2 separate regions of the Homo sapiens genome follow, and region 1 is linked to region 2. Evidence: fine-mapped expression QTL. Tissue or cell type: whole blood. Region 2 holds a variant in brackets; the other region holds the start of a gene. All regions are shown on one strand. Distances are from middle to middle.

Region 1 (8,114 bases), 75 kb before region 2:
GTCTCATCACGTTGCCCAGGCTGGTCTCCAACTCCTGGGCTGAAACGTTCCTCTCAGCTCAGCTTCCGAAAGTGTTAGTATTACAGGCATGAGCCACCATGCCCGGCCCTCTTTCTCTTTTTAAAACGTAAATACTAGGGCATGGCATGGTAGCTCACATCTGTAATTCCAGGACTTTGGGAGGCCAGCCTGGGCAACACAGTGAGGCCCCATCACTACAGCTCTCTATAAAAACAAACAAACAAACAAACAAACAAACAATTAGCTGGGCATGGTGGCAATGCTTGTAGTCCTAGTTACTTGGGAGGCTGAGGTGAGAGGATCACTTGAGCCCAGGAGTTTGAGATTACAGTGAGCTATGATTGTGCCACTGCACCCCAGCCTGGGTGATAGAGTGACACCCTGTTAAAAAAAAAATCCAGTAAATACTTTTTTTTTTTTTTTGAGATGGAGTCTCTCTCTGTCGCCCAGGCTGGAGTGCAGTGGTACCATCTCGGCTCGCTGCAAGCAAGCTCTGCCTCCTGGGTTCACGACATTCTCCTGCCTCAGCCTCCCAAGTAGCTGGGACTAGAGGTGCCTGCCACTACGCCTGGCTAATTTTTTTGTATTTTTAGTAGAGACGGGGTTTCACCGTGTTAGCCAGGATGGTCTCAATCTCCGGACCTCGTGATCCACCCGTCTCGGCCTCCCAAAGTGCTGGGATTACAGACATGAGCCACCACTCCCGGCGAGATACTGTACTCTTGCCACTGTGCCCTACCCCATGTTCCTCCCACCAGTCCCAGTAACCTGCTGAGTTGGAGCATAAATGCTCCCTGCCCATCTAAGTATGTTTTGAAGTGGGCCCTCTCTCCCTAAGTGCCAAAGTACCTAAGTACCTGGGCTTACAGATCATCTTTTTTTTTTTCTTTTTTGAGACGGAGTCTCACTCTGTAGCCCAAGCTGGAGTGCAGTGGCGTGATCTCGGCTCACTGCAACCTTCGCCTCTGGGGCTCAAGCAATTCTCCTGCCTCAGCCTCCCAAGTAGCTGGGACTAGAGGCGTGCGCCACCACACCTGGTTAATTTTTTTTGTATTTTTAGTAGAGGCGGGGTTTCACCATGTAGCCCTGATGATCTCGAACTCCTGAGCTCAGGCAATCCACCCACACTGGCCTCCCAAAGTGCTGGGATTACAGGCGTGAGCCACCACGCCCATCTGATATCATCTTCTTTAACACAGTCACCTTCTCTGTGTCCAGACCTATGCAAAGTGCTGAAGACCAGAGTTGACTAAGACAGTTGTCCATGCAATAATTCTTTTTTTTTGAGACAGGGTCTCGCTCTGTCACCCATGCTAGAGTACAGGGTGCAACCATGGCTTACTGCAGCCTCAACTTCCTGGGCTCAAGCGATCCTCCCATCTCAGACTCTAGAGTAGCTGGGACCGCAGGTGCGTGCCACCATGCCTAGCTAATTTTTTAAAAATTATTTTTGTGGAGTCAGGGTTCTATTATGTTGCCCAAGCTGGTCTCAAACTCCTGGGCTCGAGTGATCCTTCTGCCTTAGCCTCCCAAAGTGCTGGGATTACAGGTGTGAGCAACCACACCCCGGCCTCATGCTATAACTTTTTTTTTTTTTTTTAGACAGAGTCTCACTCTGTAGCCAAGGCTGGAGTGTGTAGTGGCATGATCGCGGCTCACTGCAACCTCTGCCTCCTGGGTTCAAGCGATTCTCCTGCCTCAGCCTCCTGAGTAGCTGGGACTACAGGTGCCTGCCACCAAGCCTGGCTAATTTTTTTGTATTTCTAGTAGAGACGGGGTTTCACCACGTTGGTCAGGCTGGTCTCGAACTACTGACCTCAGGTGATCCACCCACCTCGGCCTCCCAAAGTGCTGGGATTATAGGGTGAGCCACTGCACCGCATCCTAGGTCAGACAACAGAGGACATGCCCACGGCATGACTCACAGTACTTCTGTCTGCAAGAGGCCAGTCAAAGTATATGTTATTAATAAAACCTACATGGTTGTCGTACCCATGGGGAAGGTGACAGGGGAGGAAAACAGATTGCTCTGAGCTGTGTCCAGGAACTGCTGCCAGGTGACTGTCTTGCATGGCTAGGTAAGTGGAATGAAGCTAGAGGAGATTACCAGGCCCAAACTGTCACCCATGAGACTACATTCATGGGGTTCCTATACTTCCCCTCCCACATCCTATTCTACTCCCCTTGAAGAACCTCTTTTAAAATGCAAATGTGTTGTTCACCCTGCTGCTGGGATGCCCTGCCTTTCCTTTCTCTGATTTATTTATTTATTGAGACAGGGTCTCTCTCTGTTGCCCAGGTTGGAGTGCAGTGGTGCAATCTTGGCTCACTGCAACCTCCGCCTCCCAGGTTCAAGCAATTCTCCTGCTTCAGTCTCCTGAGTAGCTGTGATTATGGGCATGTGCCACCATGCCCAGCTAATTTTTTGTGCTTTTGTTTTTATTTTTGAGACACGGTTTTGCTTTATCTCCCAGGCTAGAGTGCAGTGGCATGATCTCGGCTCACTGCAACCTCTACCTCCCAAGTTCAAGCAATTCTTGTGCCTCAGCCTTCTGAGTAGCTGGTACTACAGGCCCATGCCACCACGTCTGGTTGATTTTTTTTTTTTTTTTGATACAGAGTCTTGCTCTGTCTCCCAGGCTGGAATGCAGTGGCGTGATCTTGGCTCACGGCAACCTCCGCCTCCTGGATTCAAGCGATTCTCCTGCCTAAGCCTCCTGTGTAGCTGGGACTGCAGGCATGCACCACCCAGCCCGGCTAATTTTTGTATTTTTAGTAGAGATGAGGTTTCACCACGTTGCCTAGGTTGGTCGTGAACTTCTGAGCTCAGGCAATCCGCCTGCCTTGGCCTCCCAAAGTGCTAGGATTACAGGCATGAGCCACCATGCCTGGCCAATTTTTGTTATTTTTAGTAGAGACGGGGGTTTCACCATGTTGGCCATGGTGACGAGTTTGAGCTGGTCCCAAACTCCTGGCCTCAGGAGATCTGCCCTCACCCCCAGCCTTCCAAAGTGCTGAGATTACAGGTGTGAGCCACCGCGGCTGGTCCTCTGATTTATTTTTTCAGATCCAGTACAAATGTTACCTCCTCTGCACTCCCTTTTCCAGACTCTCCTAATGCCTTGCCTCTGCCACTGAAGTACATCATTTGTTTGTCTGTTTTTTATATTTTTATTTTCTATTTTCATTTTAAATAGAGACAGGGTCTCACTATGTCACCCAGGCTGGTCTCAAACTCCTGGTCTCAAGTGATCCTCCTGCCTCGGCCTTGAAGTACATCATTTGTAAATGTGGTAGTTGATTCCATTAAAGTGAGGTGCCTGCCTTGCTGTGGTTGGCAGCCCAGGGCCTAGTGCTGGACCTGGCTTGTGGGGGTGAGGTGCTCAGTGCTACCCAATACCACAGTACAACGAATGAACAAATGTCTAAATGAAACATCCACATTGTTTTCAGTAAGTCCTCTTCCCAGCCCTGCCCTGGAGAGCCTCTCTGTGGGTGCCCTAGTGCACAGCTCTGTTGTGTGAACATCGTACACTCATGCTTGCATACGAAGGCGTGCCCTGGCTGTGGGTGGTGGGTGGCTCCTCCTTCTGGGCTACGTGAGCCCAGGGTGTGGAAGTGTGTGGAAGTGTAGGGATAAGGGTGGGGGCTTTGGGAACTGGGAAGCCCCAGGGCTAGGCCATGAATGGGTGTCAGACCCGAAGAGCAGGTTGGGGTGCAAGTTGTCCTTCAGCCCCCATTCTTCCTTCTTTCTTAACCAAGGTTACCAGCAGCCACACACATAGGTCTGGGCTCTGAAGAGGACCGGATACATAAGGCAGAACCCAAGGAAGCCTTAGGCTCAGGTCTCTGCCTGAAGGTAGGCTGGGGAGGCGGAGAGGGACAGAGGGAAGAATCCCCTGGACACCGCGCCTCAGGGAGGCCCAGGGGTAAGGTAGGAAGACTCAGGCCCGGGATGTTGTTCTGGCTCATCCACTTCCTAACTGAATCAACCTGCACAAGTCATTTCACCCTTCTGAGCATCAGTTTCTTCATCTGTAAAATGGGCCTAACAAGCAGCCCAGCCTGGGAGGTGGTTAGTGAGGTCACTGGGTGTCACTGGCGCTTGGGAACCTGCAGAGGGCAGTACTAGCGGCAGTGCCCGCGGGGATGGAGGCAGGGAGGGGGGACGATGGCGGGACGGGTGGCGCCGGGGTTCCAGCCCTGCGCCTGCTCCGGAGCACCGGGCCCCTCTCGCTGACCCCCTCGTCCCAGGACCCCGCAGGCCCGAGTGCCTGGGCTCGTCCTCTTTCGCGCCCGCTGCCAGGTGCCAGGGCCGCGCAGGCGGGCGGAGGTGGGCAGGAAGCGCCACGCCGAGGAGCCGGGGACTCTGGGAGCTAGCGGGAGACGCCGGCGTCCGCCCAGCCGACCCCTCTGGGCCGCGGCCGACGGCTCCCGGAACTGGGCAGCCGCGGGTAAAGGCCTAGCGGGCTTGATAACCCCTGCGCCCTGGCTGGGAGGCCGCGCTGAGCGGGGGGCAGGGCGGGCCGGGGGAGGAGGCTGTGCAAGGGCCGCGGGGAGATCCCGGCCGAGAACGAGAGGGACGGAGCTGGGCGCTGAATGGCGGGCGTTCTGGCAAGTCTCCCCCTGCGTTCCCGAGGCCACCCGAAAGTAGGAGAGCTGTTTGGGACCCAGTTTGGTGGAGGAGCTCTGGACCTGTAGGAACACCGCCCCTGTACGTTTCCTGCAGTGCCCCCTCCTTTTCTCATTGCCCTGGAGACCTGGGTGATCACCGGAGAACTGCCCTCGGCCCCGCAAGTCCCGTCTTGACTCAGTGGCCCTAGATCCGAGGTTAAACCGGAACCTAGGCTTTCTCAGGCTTCTGGAGCCCTCTCTTAACCCTTCCGCAGCCCCTGGGACGGGCCAGCACCCAGCCAGCTCCTCCGCTGGTTGGCCCTGCTAAGGCAGGTGGCCCAATGCAGCCAGTTCTCCTTAAGCGTACCCTGCCCAAGAAGCCCCGATCTCAGTGGAGGAGACCAGGTGCCAAATAGGGGCACATTCCATTTAAGTGAGTTCAGAGGCCTCAGAAAAGACTTCCCAGGGACGGAGACTTTTGAGCAGGATCTTAAAAGATTGGTTGGGGCCCGAGTGGTGGCTCGCGCCTGCAGTCCCCGCACTTTGGGAGGGCAAGGCGGGCGGATCACTTGAGCCCAGGAGTTCGAGACCACCCTGGGCAACAATGGTGAAAACCCCGTCTCTACAAAAACCAAAGCCAAAAATTAGCCAGGTGTGGTGGCACACCACTTTAGTCCTAGCTACTCAGGAGGCTGAAGCAGGAGGATGGCTTGAGCCCAGGAGGTAGAGGTTGCTGTGAGCTGAGATCGTACTACTGCACTCCAGCCTGGGCAACAGAGCGAGAGACCCTGTCTCAGGAAAAAAAAAAAAAAAAAAAAAAAAAAAAAAAAAATTGGTTGGGACTCTAACAGAGGAAAAAGGTCATTCCAAACTGGGAAGAGTGTATGAACAAATTTAGGACAGCAAGAGCAAGAATCCGGTGAGCCTGGGGTATAAGGCACAGGCTGGGACAAACTCAGAAAAATAGCTTGTGGGAGCCCAGTGTTTGGACTCTATAAGTAACCTTGGACTTTTCGGGAGGTGCTTGGTGCTTGGGGTGAGGGATTAGAATGGGATGAGACTGAAGGCAGAAAGGCTGGTGAGGAGATCGGGTCCAATAAATGCTGGTCGGGGCAGCAACTGGCTGGCAAAGCAGTGGGGAGGAATTGCTAGGACTCTTCACACTGCCTAAAGGAGCAAGGGAAGAAAGATTTGAAGAGAGAGGTCAGGTTTCTAATGTAAGGCGTGGGTGGGAAGATTTGCAGCAAGGTAAATGACAAGAGGAGGGGAATGATGAGTTCAGTTTTACATGGGAGAAGTTTGAAGCAGTGGCAGGTTGTCCATCTGGAGATGTCAAGTGAGAAGTTCATTCATTTATTTATTATTTATGTCAGCCTCAAAGGCTGCTTACATAAAAGTCACAGAGAACATAAAATGATGAAGCCATTAAAACTCAGCTAAAAGGATCTGATATCTGCGGAAGAAAGGCAGAGTGGGGTGGATAATTATTACTGGAAAATCTAGGCACAGAAAAGCCACTGAAAATGAACACAGGACTCCTATCTGAGCTTGCTGGTGGCCAAGAAGGAAAAAGGACACCTAAATAAAGCAGTTTACCAGGGTGGAACTCAGGGAAAGGTGTTCGTGAAGCTTCAGGGGAGAGGCAAGACGTGGCAGGAAGGCCAGGTGTGATGGCTCACACTTGTAATCCCAGCACTTTGCAAGGCCAAGGCAGGCAGATTACCTGAGGTCAGAAGTTCAAGACCAGCTTAACCAACATGGTAAACCCCGTCTCTACTAAAAATACAAAAATTAGCCCAGTGTGGTGGTGGGCGCCTGTAATCCCAGCTACTTGGGAGGCTGAGGCAGGAGAATCGCTTGGGCCCGGGAGGCATAGGCTTCAATGAGCCACAATCATGCCTGGGCAACAGAGGGGCACTCCATCTCAAAAAAGAAAAAAGAAAAAAAAGGTGGTAGGAGATAAAATGGGATTCCTCAAGCTGGAGTTTGGGAGAGGGACGAGAGCTGAAAACCAGGCCAGGGCTTCAGCAGGGCCAACATTTGAGGAAGGGCTGATCCTCTCCTGGGAGGAAGGTCCCTCCTTGGCTGGAATGGGGTTAGGGGTGCAGGGGAGGAGTGGTGGCAGTGATCCATTCGTACTATTCTTCTTGCAGGACAGAAGTCGGTCCTAGGCCCCCCAGGCTCTGACCTTCTTTCCCAGGATGAGGTGGGGCCACCATTTGCCCAGGGCCTCTTGGGGCTCTGGTTTTAGAAGAGCACTCCAGCGACCAGGTGAGCAGGAAGCAGGGGTTTCTGTTTTTACCTCTTTCTTGCTTTCCAGGGTCCACATGATGCCTCCAAGACAGCAGGGATCCAGACACCAGGTGCACTAGTCTCAGCTCCGTGGTTCTCTAGCTGTTGACCTTGAGCATGTCGCTTCACCTTCCTCAGCTGCCTTTTTCCCAACCTAAAATAAGGGAGTTGGACTTGGCCAGGTGCGGTGGCTCATGCCTGTAATCCTAGCACTTTGGAAGGCCGAGGCAGGCGGATCACAAGATCAGGAGTTTGAGACCAGCCTGGCAACATGGTGAAACCCTGTCTCTATTAAAACTACAAAAAAAAAAATTAACCAGGTGTAGTGGTGCACACCTGTAATCCCAGCTAGTTGGGAGGCTGAGGCAGGAGAATCATTTGAACCGGGAGGCAGAAGTTGCAGTGAGCTGAGATCGCACCATTGCACTCCAGCCTGGACAATAGAGTAAGACTCTGTCTCAAAAAAAAAAAAAGAGAGTTGGACTAGATCATCTTCGAGAGTCTCTTGTAGCTACATAAGTCTAGGAACTTGTCTGATTTTACTTTACATACAACAGAGATTTACTGAGTGCCTGCCGTACCGCAGACCTGGTGTTAAGTTCTAAGTAAATAATTGTGAACAAAAACAGACGTAAAGGGGACAAAAAAATTTTAAAACACCCAAATGTGATCCCTCTCATGGAGGAGAGAGGAATGAATGTTAATCGAATAATCACACAATGAAATATAAAATTGCAAAATAACTGCTGCAAAGGGGCAGTACATGCTGCTATGAGAGCAAATACTGGGGGGTTTGATGTAGACATGGGTTCTGTGTATTGCATGGGATCTGCAGATGCTATTTCTTCCTTCTCTCTGTAGATGATCGTATCCCCTTCCTGATCCACTGGAGTTGGCCCCTTCAAGGGGAGCGTCCCTTTGGGCCCCCTAGGTGAGGCCTGGGTGTCATACCTTAGGACTAGTCTGGGCACAACAGAGCAGACTGGGAAGGGTCAGGACTTGGGGCTAGCTTGATCTCTTGGGGACCTTGGGGAGGGGCTTGGTCCTTTGGGGGTGGGAGGACAGTGGCAGCTCCAAGGCCTGAGAGGAAGTTGGCTTAGATCATCTGTGGTAGAAGGCATAGTAGTCAGTGGAGGGAGGACCCTGTGGGAAGTGGGTGGAGCCTCACATGGCCAGCCTGAGTTCCA
Region 2 (8,000 bases):
ATTATTCTTGGCTATGTTGAATAGGAATATCAGGAGTGGCCATCTTTGTCTTTTTGGTATTGAGGAGGAAAATGTTCAGCCTTTCACCATTGAGTATATTAGCTGTGAGATTTTTGTAAAGGCTTTTCATCAGGTTAAAGAAGTTTCCTTACATGTCTTGTTTTTCAGTTTTTGGTTGTTGTTTTTTTTTTGCTTTTTTGTTTTATCATAAACAGTTGTTAGAGACCTTTTATGTTTCATTCGTGGTTTTTCTTTTTTTGATAGGTGAGTTGTGGACAGCTGAGTGCTAGTTAAATATAGTACATAGAAAGAATCTTGAAAAGAAAACTAGTTTGAATAAGCCAAAGTAGAAACTTGTTGACTCATAAAATTCTAGAAAAAATGAGTATCTTAAATTGCACTAAAGAGGCTGGGCATGGTGGCTCACGCCTGTAATGCCAGCACTTTGGGAGGCTGAGGTGGGCAGATCACTTGAGGTCAGGAGTTGGAGACCAGCCTGGCCAACATAGTGAAACCCCATATCTACTAAAAAATTCAAAACAATTAGCTGGACATGGTGGCATATACCTGTAATCCCAGCTGCTTGGGAGGCTAAGGCACGAGAATTGCTTGAACTCGGTTGGTGGAGGTTTGCGGTGAGCTGAGATCATGCCCCTGCACTCCAGCCTGGGTGACAGGGTGAGACTGTTACCAATTAAAAAAAAAAAGAAAAAAAAGAAAGAAAAAGAAAAATTGCACTAAAGGCAAGAATGCAGGTAAGCCTCAGGAACAACTGAAACCAGGATTGAAATGTTGCCAGGACTCTGTCTGTTCTCTTTGATTCTTCTGGTATTACTTCCATACTCAGTGCAGATTAATGCGTAAATTGCAGAAAAGTTTGGTCTCTATTACACCCAAGTTTTATATCTTAAGAGTTTCTGCTGTAGCAGAAGATATGACTCTTAGTTCCAGTTTTCACTTTGGCTTGGTATAGAGCATTTGATTGTCCCTGGACCAACCTCTGGAAGGAGAGGTTAAGTACTGGGATTAGTACAGCAGAGGCCAGTTGCAGACCTCTAGACTAATCGACTGTGGCTTGGGAGACATATGTGTTCCTTCATAGCCATGTGCATGGGGGAGTTTGTTCCTAGTTTTTTGGGTGTTGAGGAGCCAGTCTCTTAAATCTTCTCTATAAGAGTGTACATAATTGGCTGGGTGCAGTGGCTCATGCCTGTAATGCCAGCACTTGGGGAGGCTGAGGTGGGTGGATCACCTGAGGTCAGGAGTTCAAGACCAGCCTGGCTAACATCGTGAAACCCCGTCTCTACTAAAAATACAAAAATTAGCCAGGTGTGGTAGCGGGCACCTGTAATCCCAGCTACTCGGGAGGCTGAGGCAGGAGAATCACTTGAACCTGGGAGGTGGAGGTTGCAGAGCCGAGATTGTGCCACTGCACTCTAGCCTGGGCGACAGAGTTAGATTCCATCTCAAAAATAAAAAATAAAAAATAAAAAAGAATGTACATAATTCTATCTATTATTGTATAGTATTGTTGCTTCATGATTTTATTTTAGTTATTATTAGCTGGTTTAAGTTCTCCAAAGATAAATTTGCCCTCATTTTTCTTAGACTTTATAAAAAATGAATTAAGTAAAACCATAAGCCTCTGTTTTGCCTTTGATCTTTCTGGGTTTTGCACCTGTTTTCATTTGTGTACAGGAAGTTACAGTAGAAGCCGAATGGGATTATACAGTGCAGTTAATTTTAAAAACTTGATTGTATTCATTGTGCAAGTAGGATTAAGCTTTTCTAATGTAATTCTGCCTTCTTAGAGGTAGGAAAAGGAAAAAAAATTAGTATTGAGTATTTTGTCTATGGTAGGCACTGCTCCTGAATAGTACATAGTCCCTTCTTTTCATGAAGCTTATAAGCTTATATTATGTCTTTTTCCATTAGTTTCCAAAGCATAACCTCCATATTATCATCCGGTGGAACAGTATTTAACAAGCGAGACAAAAGTGTTTGTGCAGCTATAATCTTTTCCTAGCACCATGAAAATAGGTTTTCAATAAGTGTGCAAAATTCTTCTGGTAGGTAATGGCAGTTTAGATCTTTGTGTTCAGGAATTTGGGCTTGGTGGGAAGAGATTTTCACTTAGGTTAAAAATGTCCTTGCATTTAGGAAAGGGACAGCAACATGGGTCCTGAAAAAGATTTTCAGTCCATGAGAGAGACAATGATGGCTTGGACCAAAGTGATGGGTGTAGAGATGGAAAGAAGTGGGCAGAATTTGATGTATTTTAAAGCTAACATACCAGGACTTGCTAATGAATTGGATAGATTTCTAGTTTGAGCAACTGGATAGATAGTGCAATGGGAAGCCACTGAACTTTTGAACAGGTGAAGGATGTGATCCACTTGTATTTTACAGTGACAGTATTGGCTGCTGTCTGGAAAATAGGTAAGGTCTTGTGGCAATGATGGAAATAGATGGATAGGTTACTAAATTAGTATTCTAGGCCATGTTAGATTGATGAGACTAGGGAGGAGGAATTTAAAATGAAGAGAGGTGGGCAAATAAGAAATAGATTGGGGATAGGTATGGTGTAATTCCTGTAATCCCAGTGATTTGGGAGACTAAGGAGGATCAGTGGAGGCCAAGAGTTTAAGACCAGCCTGAAACTGGGCACAGTGGCTCACGATTGTAATCCCAGCACTTTGGGAGGCCAAGGCGTTGGATCACCTGAGGTCAGGAGTTCGAGACCAGCGTGAACATGGTGAAACCCCCTCCCTTCTAAAAATACAAAATCAGCTGGGCATGGTGGCGGGTACCTGTAATCCAAGCTACTCAGGAGGCTGAGGCAGGAGAATTACTTGAACCCAGGAGGCGGAGGTTGCAGTGAGCCAAGATTGCACCACTGCACTCTAGCCTGAGTGACAGAGTGAGACTCCATCTCAAAAAAAAAAAAAAAAAAAGACCAGCACGGCACCATAGAGAGACCCTGACCCTGTCTCTACAAAAAATTTAAAAAAGAAAAATTGGCTGGGTGTGGTGGCATGCATACCTGAAGTCCCAGCTACTCAGGAGGCAGTTGAGGTGGGGAGGATCACTTGAGCCGCTGCACTATAGCCTTGGTGACTGAATAAGGCCCTGACTCTTTAAAAAAAAAAAAAAAAAAAAGAAACCAGTTTGCTAGGCCTAAAATAATTGTTTCTTTTGGCTTGCAAAAGTGGCAAAAATGGCAAATCTACTTTTTTTTACTTTTTTAAAAAAATTTTTCTCTCAAATCTATTTATGATGAGTATTCCAAAAGAGGGTGCAGGGACATGGGTATTGCCATACCAGGTTGCATTAGGGGTGAAATTAGTTTAACCTTTCTGGGGTGGTGGTTATATCAAAAGATTTAGAATTTTCAGCCAGGGGTGGTGGCTCATTACTGTAATCCCAGCACTTTGGGAGGCTGAGGCAGGCAGATTACCTGAGGTCAGGAGTTTGAGAACAGTCTGGCCAATGTAGTGAAACCTCGTCTCTACTAAAAATACAAAAATTAGCTGTGTGTGGCAGTGCACGCCTGTAATCCCAGCTACTTGGCAAGCTGAGGCAGCAGAATCGCTAGAATCCAGGAGGTGGAAGTTGCAGTGAGCCGAGATCATGCCAGTGCACTCCAGCCTGGACGACAGAGCAAGACTCAATCTCAAAAAGAAGATAAGACTTAGAATTTTGCTTAATAAGTTCACTGGTAGGATATTTATTTATTTATTTATTTTTAAAGAGAGATTGGTCTGTGTTTTCCAGGCTGGTCTCAAGTGATATGCCCGCTTCACCCTCCCAAAGTGCTGGGATTATAGGCATGAACCACTGCGCCCAGCCTACTGTTAGGAATTTATCAAAGAGAATTGATCAAGGATATGAGACCCCGTCTCAAAAAAAAAAATTTTTTTTTTTTTTTTTTGCTGATGAAGAGTAACGATATGACAATATGTTAAATAGGCTATAGAATTGTATGTTTAATAATATTCCATTTTTGTAGAAAGTATTTTAAAATACAAAAACAACACCTAGAAAGAATGATACCAAAATAACAACGGTAAGTATTAGAATTACAGGTGGTTTAAATTTTCTACAATGAATATGCAATTGATCAAAAAACTTTTTTTTTTTCTTTTGGGAGGCAGGGTCTCTTGTCACCCAGGCAGGAATGCAGAGGTGTGATCACAGCTCATTGCAGCCTCAGCCTCCCAGGTTCGAGCAATTCTCTTGCCTTAGCCTCCTGAGTAGCTGTGACTACAGGTGTGTACCACC[A/G]TGCCTGGCTCGTTTTTAAATTTTTTGTGGACATCGGGTCTCACTGTGTTTCCCAGGCTGGTCTCAAACTCCTGTGCTTAAGTGATCCTTTTGCCTTGGCCTCCCAAAGTGTTGGGATTACAGGTATGAGCCACTACTCCTGACCTCAGATTCTTTTTAAAAGAAGAAAAAAAATGTGGTAACTTCTTAGGTAACAGCACGAATTCACAAGAACAGTTCTGAAAATTTTCCCTTTTGTTGTAGTAATATGATCGCTAGATTATGGTGAAGTTCAGTGAACCTAGCTAGAGAGAGTGCAAAGTTGCTAGCTAGAAAGACTGGAAAACTGGGTTAGTTTATGAAGGTGAAAAGTCACAGTTAGTTCTCAGCATCATCCTGTACAAGGTAATAGTGCTTGTAGAGCAGTAGATCATAAATTACTATGGTTTGTTTAATTATGAAAACCTGATAATCAGATCATCTGTTTTCTTAGAAATTCTAATGTAATGGTAGGTTATATTAGTGCTTCAAACATGGTTTGCTTTTTATTTTTAATTAATTTTTTTTTTTTTTGAGATAAGGTCTCACTCTGCCGTGCAGGCTGGAGTGCAGTGGCACAATCTTGGCTCACCGCAGCCTCAACCTCCAGGGCTCATGTGATTCTCCCACCTCAGCCTCCTGAGTAGCTGGAACAGGTGCATGCTACCATGCCCGGCTAATTTTTTTTTTTTTTTTTTGAGACGGAGTCTCGCTCTGTCGCCCAGCCTGGAGTGCAGTGGCGTGATCTCGGCTCACTGCAAGCTCCGCCTCCCGGGTTCATGCCATTCTCCTGTCTCAACCTCCCGAGTAGCTGAATTTTTGTATTTTTTGTAGAGACGGGATTTTGCCATATTGCCTAGGCTGGTCTTGAACTCCTGAGTTCAAGCAATCCGCCCCACCTTACCTTACCATAGTGCTGGGATTATAGGTGTGAGCCAGCATGGTTGGCCTGTTTATTTTTGTGAGACAGGGTCTTGCTTTGTCACACAAGACTGGAGTCCAGTGACACAATCATAGCTTACTGCTGCCTCTTCCAGGATCATCAATTTACCTGCTTCAGCCTCCCAAGTAGCTGGGACTACAGGCACACACCCCAAGTAGCTGGGACTACAGGCACACACCACCATGCCTGGGCAGTTTTTTAATCTTTTGTAGAGATGGGGTCCCACTTTGTTGCCCAGGCTGGTCTTGAATGCCTGGCCTCAAGTGATTCTCCCACCTTGGACTCCGAAAGTGCTGGGATTACAGGTGTGAGCCACCTTGCCCGACCAGTTTTTTTTTTTTTTTTAAACCAGATATCTACCTGCTTGTCTAGAGCTTTTTTTTATTAATGCAGTTTTTCTCTCAGCCTTTTGGTTTGAGGACCCCTTTACATTCTAAAAATTTTTTGAGGACCTCAAAGAGCTTTTGTATATATGGGTCATATCGATCAACATTTACCATATTTGATATTAAAACCGAGAGATTTAAAAATATTTAGGTTTTTAACCTTTAAACACTTAACAATAATAAGCCTATTACATGTTAACATAAAAAGTTTTAATGGACCAGGTGCAGTGGCTCATGCCTGTAATCCCAGCACTTTGGGAGACCGAGGCAGGTGGATCACTTGAGGTCAGGAGTTCGAGACCAGCCTGGCCAACATGGTGAAACCCCATCTCTACTAAAAATACAAAAATTACCCGGGCATGGTGGTGGGTACCTGTAATCCCAGCTACTCGGGAGGCTGAGGCAGGAGAATCACTTGAACCTGGGAGGTGGAGGTTGCAGTGAGCTGAGATTGTGCCATTGCGCTCCAGCCTGGGTGCCAAGAGCAAAACTCCGTCTCAAAAAACAAACAAAAAAGAAATAGAGACAAGGTTTTGCTCAACCTTCTTCATAACTGGGACTATAGGTCTGTGTCACCATGCCTGGCTAATTTTTAAATTTTTTTGTGGAGATGGGATCTCACTATGTTGCCCGGGCTGGAATTTCTGTTGTTATAAATTAACTAGTCTTTGGTATTTTGTTAATAGCAGCCCAAGCAAACTAAGACAGACGCATTCTTTGCAAATCTTTTTTTTTTTTTTTTTTTTTTTTTTTTTTTTTTGAGGAGATGGAATCTCTCTTTGTCACCAGGCTGGAGTGCAGCGGCGCGATCTCAGCTCACTGCAGCCTCTGCCTCCTGGGTTCAAGGAATTCTTCTGCCTCAGTCTCCCAAGTAGCTGGGACTACAGGCGCGCGCCACCATGCCCAGCTAATTTTTGTACTTGTAGTAGAGACAGGGTTTCACTATGTTGGCCAGGATAGTCTTGATCTCTTGACCTCGTGATCCGCCTGCCTCGGCCTCCCAAAGTGCTGGGATTACAGGTGCGAACCACCGCGCCCGGCCTTACAAATCTTTTTAATACATAGTTTAAGAGAATACAGCTGGAGTTTCATATCTGCTGCATTCAGTGTGTTACAGTGTGATATTTTGGTTGAAGTTTATGGAGAAAATTCAGCTACCCACAAATATGTAGTTGGAAAGGGGGAGGGGTATTCATACTTTACCAAAACTGAACGAGTGTTAGTTTCTTTTTTCTTTTGAGATGGGAGTCTTGCTCTGTTGCCCAGGCTGGAGTGCAATGGCACAATCTCAGCTCACCGCAACCTCCGCCTCCTGGGTTCAAGCAATTCTCCTGCCTCAGCCTCCCGAGTAGCTGGGACTACAGACGTGTGCCACCACACCTGGCTAATTTTTGTATTTTTAGTAGAGATGAGGTTTCACCATGTTGGCCAGGCTGGTCTTGAACTCCTGACCTCAAGTGATCCACCCACTTCGGCCTCCCAAAGTGTTGGGATTACAGGTGTGAGCCAGTGCGCCCAGGCGAGTATTAGTTTCTTAAAAGGTTAGTTGCAGTGTGCAACTGCTTCAATTAACATTTTGTACTTTAAGATTCATGCTATCTTGTAATTGGAATGATTGTTTTACTTGTGCATGATTTCGTAACACACATTGGTCACTTGGAAAATATTGATTGACTAGGTTATAGAGATTTTTCCATATATTGATATATATCAAAACATTAAATTCATTAATTAAATCTCATTAGAAAAGTTTGGTATTGGGAAGCTGTTGCTGATGGTTGTGGATAGAAGTTTGAAAAATGAAATTTTGCTTAAAAGCTTGAGTTTCATTATTGACAATGAAAACTGCCAGTTTATCATCAGGTGACAGGGCACTTCATTTTGGAGAAACACTCTGCCAGTTATGCAAGTCTGAATAGCCATAGTTAGTCTATTCATCATTCTTTCAAGTAAAAATGATGTTCCATACCGTACATGAAAACACAGTTAATAACTTGATGGTGAAAGACTGAAAGCCTTCCCTTTAAGATCATGAAGCAGACAAGATAGCCTACTTTTGCCACATCTCATCAACGTGGTACTAGACGTTCCAGCCAGAGCAATTAGGCAAGGAAAAGAAAAGAAGCCTAATTGCTCTGCTGCAACTTCTAAGAAAAGATAGGAAAAAGAGCCATTTCCATTTGCATGTGACATAATTCTGTATGTAGAAAATTCTAAAGAATCCATTAAGAAAACACTAAAGCCAATAAATGAGTTCTGCAAAGTTGCAGGACACAAGATCAATATACAGAAATCATTTGCCGGGTGTGGTGGCTCACGCCTGTGATCCCAGCACTATGGGAGGCCGAGGCAGACGGATTGCTTGAGGTCAA

The links. PIP is the estimated chance that this variant, and not a neighbour inherited with it, causes the effect.
Region 1: NLRX1 starts here. The variant in region 2 is fine-mapped to the expression of NLRX1 in whole blood (TOPMed, PIP 0.98).

Annotation. Positions count from the first base shown.
Region 1 is chr11:119,164,568-119,172,681 of GRCh38, forward strand. It overlaps NLRX1 (NLR family member X1), which reads left to right and starts at 4,158. Exons shown (of 10, transcript NM_001282144.2): 1 at 4,158-4,735; 2 at 6,789-6,906; 3 at 7,789-7,858. The coding sequence starts at 6,837. RefSeq lists a silencer at 4,067-4,676 and enhancers at 4,248-4,953, 4,954-5,658.
Region 2 is chr11:119,239,603-119,247,602 of GRCh38, forward strand. The region is part of intron 2 of CBL (Cbl proto-oncogene); the gene reads left to right. Among named protein-coding and RNA genes, the nearest start is that of CBL, 37 kb to the left of the region's middle. The variant A/G (reference allele first, on the strand shown) is at 4,282.